2 linked regions of the Homo sapiens genome follow. The protein of the gene in region 1 purifies or fractionates together with the protein of each later gene. This does not show direct contact. Each region holds a gene or a part of one and is shown on either strand. Other genes may lie near its edges.

What was found. The genes of interacting proteins can lie anywhere in the genome.
Region 2: the proteins of RDX (region 1) and PAWR fractionate together in Homo sapiens (co-fractionation; one large-scale study listed by BioGRID). This does not show direct contact.

Annotation. Positions count from the first base shown.
Region 1 is NC_000011.10:110,251,615-110,255,114, forward strand, and holds part of RDX (radixin), read right to left. Parts: intron 2,496-3,500; coding exon 2,332-2,495; intron 1-2,331. UniProt on the Homo sapiens protein: Probably plays a crucial role in the binding of the barbed end of actin filaments to the plasma membrane.
Region 2 is NC_000012.12:79,587,172-79,589,964, forward strand, and holds part of PAWR (PRKC apoptosis WT1 regulator protein), read right to left. Parts: 3' UTR 1-2,793. UniProt on the Homo sapiens protein: Pro-apoptotic protein capable of selectively inducing apoptosis in cancer cells, sensitizing the cells to diverse apoptotic stimuli and causing regression of tumors in animal models.

The DNA of each region.
Region 1 (3,500 bases):
AACCTACAATTGGTACATAGGTATGTAACTCTAAACTGTAAACTTGGGGCTTTCAGTTTTCACATGTGGAAACAATTTTAGCCATACAAAAACGTGCAAAAATTATCAGTCATAATTCAATTTGGATGCCAATAATTTAAGAGCTTCAAAAACTACATGGAATAACCACTCATAGTGTATAAGGTCATTTTCATTGCCAAAAAACCCCTAGGTTATAAAAATTATAGGGAGTAAATATAGCCAAATATACCAAAGTATTGTAGGGAAAGAGGTCTCTTTGCTACTCTTTCCCAACTACTGTTCTTGCCCAAGAGAGTCTAGCAGCACAGGCAGCATACCTCTGGGCATTCTCCCAGGTATATCTGCTGGCTACTTTGCCAATGGGCTTAATCAAAATTGTTTCCACACATACAGCTGCCATTTCTCTCTCTCTGACCTGTAAAGCAGGGAATAAATGACTCAGCATGCCATTTCTGAAAGACTGCCAATTCCTAGGTGACTAGAATAATATATCTCCTAGGCATTCAAACTGAATAAAAGTTACTGAATTCCAACTGAGTATAAAGCAGTCAATAAATGCTTACTAATGAAGAGCTCTAACATTTATCCAGGAGAACTACGGATTATTGTGCCAAAAAAGAAACTTAAGTCTTCCACTTCCATCTAAGCCTTAGAGTAACTAAAATATAGCACCATTACCAAATGATACTAAGTAAACATACTACCTGTACTAGAAGCAATACAGTATTTCTCTATAAGCCATGAAATAAAGGATATATAGATAAATATAGTAAGTTGAGAATGTAAATAATATATCAACATTATGAATGAGCAGAACAGTTAGGCATACTATAGAGTGATGAGTATGAGATACAGGAACTGTATATAAAATAATTCCTCATTTATCTCATGCTAGAAAACCTTTAAGAGACAGTGAAATCTTTAAGACGATTTAAAAAAATTAAGTGGAAACTAAAAGAAGTCTTCCCTTTGACAGAGGGAAATGCAAGGCTATGTGTATAAGAATGTACTGTATAGAAAGTAAAGCCCAATAAAGAGTATTTTTAAAAAGCATTTAAGATTAGAACCACAATGTAATGCTACAGCACATGAGCACAATAAAAAAGGACATAGCCCATCAAAGTAACAATCCAACTCATTACTCTTTTTTTTATTTTTATTTTTAAGAGAAAGGGTTTTACTACACTGCATGTTGCCTGTTGCCCTGATTGTCTTCAAACTCCTGTACTCAAGCAATCCTCCTGCCTCAGCCTCCCAAGTAGCTGAGACTACAGGCACATGCCACCATCCTCAGCTCACCAACTCAGTATCTTTAATGATGGGATTAGTAATTACTGACAAGCTTCAAACCCATATAAAAAATGTTTTGTTATGTGGTTAACTTCTCTAAGGAAGATAATTTGAGTTAATATGACAAAATAGGTAAAAATCAATAAAATCTCTTACACAGAACAGTTGTTGAATAAGAAAAAAAATCATTCAATATAAAACCTAAAACTATAGTAGCAAAATGGTATCTAGCAGATGGCTTCCTTCTAGATACAAAGTACCTTATATCCAATATTTAAAATACATATGTTTAGGGCTCTTCAAATTTTTTTTAAGGACTTACTCTATTTCTTAGACTATCACGTTGTTCCATAAAGATTTATTCAATAAAGGTTAACTTTAGTTTGGTCTCTAAATTTTTTCAAGTAAAGCACAAAGTTGAAATTAATCTAAAACCAGATTTGGAAATTAATGTCACTGGACCCAGTAATCTGATTCCAGGGTTGATATAAATTTTATTCACTACCATTCAATTTTAAAAATTATCAATTTAATATATTTAACAGTTTCTTTTTTAAGTCTAAGAGAAACAGAGTTAAAAAGATTAGGGTCTTTGGCAGGGAGTACTGATGTTACCCTACTTGGCACAGTGACGTTTCAGTTGTGTTCTACAATGTCACTGACATTGTTTCAAAGTTAAATATTCAGCACATTCTTACCCTGAAAAAATTAAGAAATATAAGTCACAAGCAAAACAATTTTGAAAGTTTCAAACTACTATATCTAAAACAATGTCTATCAGTGAAAAGCAAGAAATGAGTCACAAAAAGCTATTTTCTTCGAGATATGTGTCAAAGATTTCTAACTTGAAAATTATACATACTCGTTTTAAAGGACAGAGTGATAATACTGTCTTTGAATTTTAATATAATGAAAATATTAATAAATACAAATTTAAGGTACATTTAAAAAACTGAGCAGTCTTAAATTTTAGATAGCCTACTCCTATCAATTAAAAGTGAAAGGTCATAAACCCCATACCTTTCCAACTGCTTCTGATGTTTCTCCTCCCTAGCCTGAGCCTTCATCTGTTGTACTTCAATAGTATCAGGCTTCCTTCTTCGCATGTATAGTTCATGGTTTCCCATACATAAGGCCAAAATCCGCTTATTGATTCTCAGACGAGGTGCATAAAACACAAAATCCTAAACATAAAGTATTCTGAATTTAAAATCTTCCTCAAGGATACTGTCTCTCATAACAATCTGTACTAAATTTTAACATGAGGTATGAATTTTAATGTCATATTACATATAGTTTAGAAATAAGAAATCATACAATTTCATAACTCCCAGTGAGCATGACATACTTTCACATAACTGGTTCCTCACCTTTTCATATCCAACCAGTTTTGTAAAGAGGCTAATATTCTTATCCTTGCAATACATTAAATGTCATTTATTCCTTTTTGTTCTCGAAAGTAACTATGAGCACCTGTTCCTTATACACCATTTGCCATTAATGTCAAAATTGGTTCTTCGTTCATGGCTGTAGAGTTTTTTTTAACCTAGAATTGTTCTTTTTTTTTTTTGAGACGGAGTCTTGCTGTCATCCAGGCTGGAGTGCAGTGGTGCCATCTCAGTGCACTCCAACCTCTGCCTCCCGGGTTCAAGAAATTCTCATGTCTCAGCCTCCCTAGTAGCTGGGATTACAGGCATGCACCACCACATCTGACTAATATTTGTATTTTCAGTAGAGATGAAGTTTCACCACGTTGGCCAGGCTGGTCTTGAACTCCTCATCTCAGGTGATCTGCTCCTCTCGAGCCTCCCAAAGTGCTGGGATTATGGTCCTGAACCATTGCACCCAGCCTGTTCTTCTTACTTTTACCTTTTCAGTAACTAACAGGGTTAGGATACTAGAGTATACTTGACATTAGAGGAACTTTAAAAATCTATTTAAATAAAAAGATTTCTTAAGTTCAAGGCTTCAAGTTACAAAAATACAAAGTTCATAAAGCAAAACTGTATAAACGAAGTTAATTTAGAATAGGGCTACCTCTACTACATTCTAGCCACCAATGAAGAAACACTTTAAAATTGCTTCTTAGGAATGGTGTTTTCATTAGCCTCCTAATAAATATTATCTATTTATAACTGAATCTCAAATAAAATAAAATTCTAATATTTACATCTTACTTTAAAAAATTA
Region 2 (2,793 bases), on another chromosome or scaffold:
GGCTTGCTAGTGGAATACGTCCTTATATAGGGACTTGAAGAGTTTATCTAAATAGACTGACTTAAGGATGCTTTTCCTCTTGTTAGACTTGTATGACATTACTGAGAAGATTTAGAGTTCTAGAAGTAGAGAAGACTGATTAGCTTGTGCCTGTGTATGAAGAATGACAAATTAAGACAAAAGGTTATGTAAACCATTTACTAAAAAAGTCTAAATTTTTATATTCCTAGGCCCCTACTTATCTTTTACAAACTTTGAAGGACCTGAAATTCTTTGGACACCATCAGATTTAGTTTATAAGAGTTCTGATTTTGAATCAAGAAATTATTCATGTAGTTTTAAAACACAATTAAAATTTTCAGTCAGGCTGAACTTTTGTGCACTTCCTCATTTATTCGAGAAACCCCACCACTAATGTATTTAGACCTTAATATGATGGCTTTGAGTCTTAAATCATTGTCCACCTAAAATAATATACCAAATAAAGATTTTTAAAGTGCTGCATATGGTTTCTGTAAGAGGTACATAATTAGATTACCAGCATTATCCTTTAGCTTCAAAAGTAAAACTCATAGTCAGGATTTTACTGATAGTACAGGAAGAAAAAAAATAACCACTGTTGAAAAATAAATGAAAAAAATTTTATTGAGTATTACTTTATACATGCAAATTGAAAGTGAATCTATATTAAGTTGACTATTCCACAATAAAAACCTATGAAATGGGAATGATCAAAGCTGTCTAACACAATACTAATGTGTTCAATAAATTATCCAGATGTTTTTCCACAAATATTTGGATTACCTGAATTAGCTGATTCTTCAGCAAAAGTTAAATTTTAGCTTTAATATGGTAGCAGCAGGATGCTACTTAAATTTAGAAGAAAAACATAAGAATAAAAACCCTGAATAGCATAGCCAAATCTTCCAAGAAATAAGTTCACCAAAAAAGTAGCATACACCTATTTGGTATCCAGAGGAGGAAACAAAACACAGGCACTTAATCAACATCCACCAAGTGATCATCACTAACATTCTATTATTACCAGAGTAACTGTCGATATGTGAACTGTAGATTAGAACAGACTTACATATCTAAAAACAAACCAGTAATCAATAATATATACAGAAATACTAACTTGAAGTCACATTTAAATACCATCAACAGTTTGGTGTATCTGATATAACTGAATTCATTTCATCACTGCTATAAATTCCTTAAAAGTGTTCTTTTCCTAATTAACATTATCTTTAAAAAATGGTAGATATTTCCCAGTATGCATCAGTTTTTTCACTCCACCATTCAGTAAATGTTGTAGCAAATTAAATAGAACCTATTAACTAGATCTAAAAACAGTGGCTGAATACTTAACACAAAGAAGTACTTTTGAGTAAACTATTCAGATTAGACAGGCTAATGCTAAGACTGCATTTTGTGCTACTGACATGCACTATATAGATCGTACACTACTAGATGGAAAGTTGGTCCATGTCCATTTATTTAAAGATTCTGTAACACCTGTAATAGTATTTAATACAGCTCCCACATACTATATTCCTCTCACATAGACATAGTTATTTTTAGTGGGGATAAGGATATGACTTTAACATGCTATGAGATTCTAGCTAAGTAAAATAAAAACAATATGGACTCAGATTTTCTTAGGAGATATTAGTTCAAGTTTTTAAACTGGGAAACAATCAACTTCCATATATCCAGGAGAAACTTAGCATGGGGGGAGGTGCCTTAGTTGATGTGCCTGATAAGCAAACTGTTAGTTGTCTATTAGTATTATGTTTTCGGCTTAATGTAACAACAAAAGAAAGTTGTCACACTACCTCTCAGATAATATCAATTACAATCTTAGAGACTGTAATTGGGAATACAATCCTATAACAAGTTATTAACAATATCATGAATAGTTATTAAGTAAGTGCCAGCACTACATGCAACTTACTGGTCACCAACTCAGAACCCATAAAACTATACACATATGCACAAAAAAAAAACTCCAAAGAAAGATACCTATCACTGTACATATGAATACTGTCCAGGATATCAGATCAATTATCAAATCCAAGGTCTCTGCTGTTTTGTCTTACAGTGTTGAATATATGAATGCTTCTCTATTACACTGACTTGTACTATTTTCAAGAAATTAAGTGGATTCAAAATCTTACATTTTTATTTCTAATTATAAAATCCAGATTAATCCAAAAAACACAAACCACATGTAACCGAGGTAGGTTTTTCACCTTAAGAATACATTGCTTCTACCACAATTAAAAATTTTTTAAACTGAAGAAAAAAAAAAACTACATTGCTCCACATACCTGATACTTAATTTTCTATGTTTGAAACTACTTGAACAAGTGTGACAGTGCTAATCTACTATATTTAGTAAATCCCTTAGTACCTATAAATACACACCCAAAAGCCCTTCCCTCCTTCTCTAATGGTAACTGTTGTATAATAAAATTGTCAACAACTCTAGAAAGATGAAATAAAGATTACTATAGCAATCTTCAATTAATTCATTTCAGAAATCAAGGAGGCAAGTCATGTTCATTTTAAAGATGACAAACTTACTATTTTGAAAATGAGCTCATAAATACATTAGAACTTTGAATGTGCTTTATTATGCCACAAATTCCCAGGAGATTTAAGAAATAGTATTTCTGAACAGGAATAATAATTTCACAAATACTAACACTTTATTGACAATAGACAAGTCTTTTAGGGTAGTGCACATGTACTTAAAAACTACCTTCTACCAATCTCAACACTTTTTAT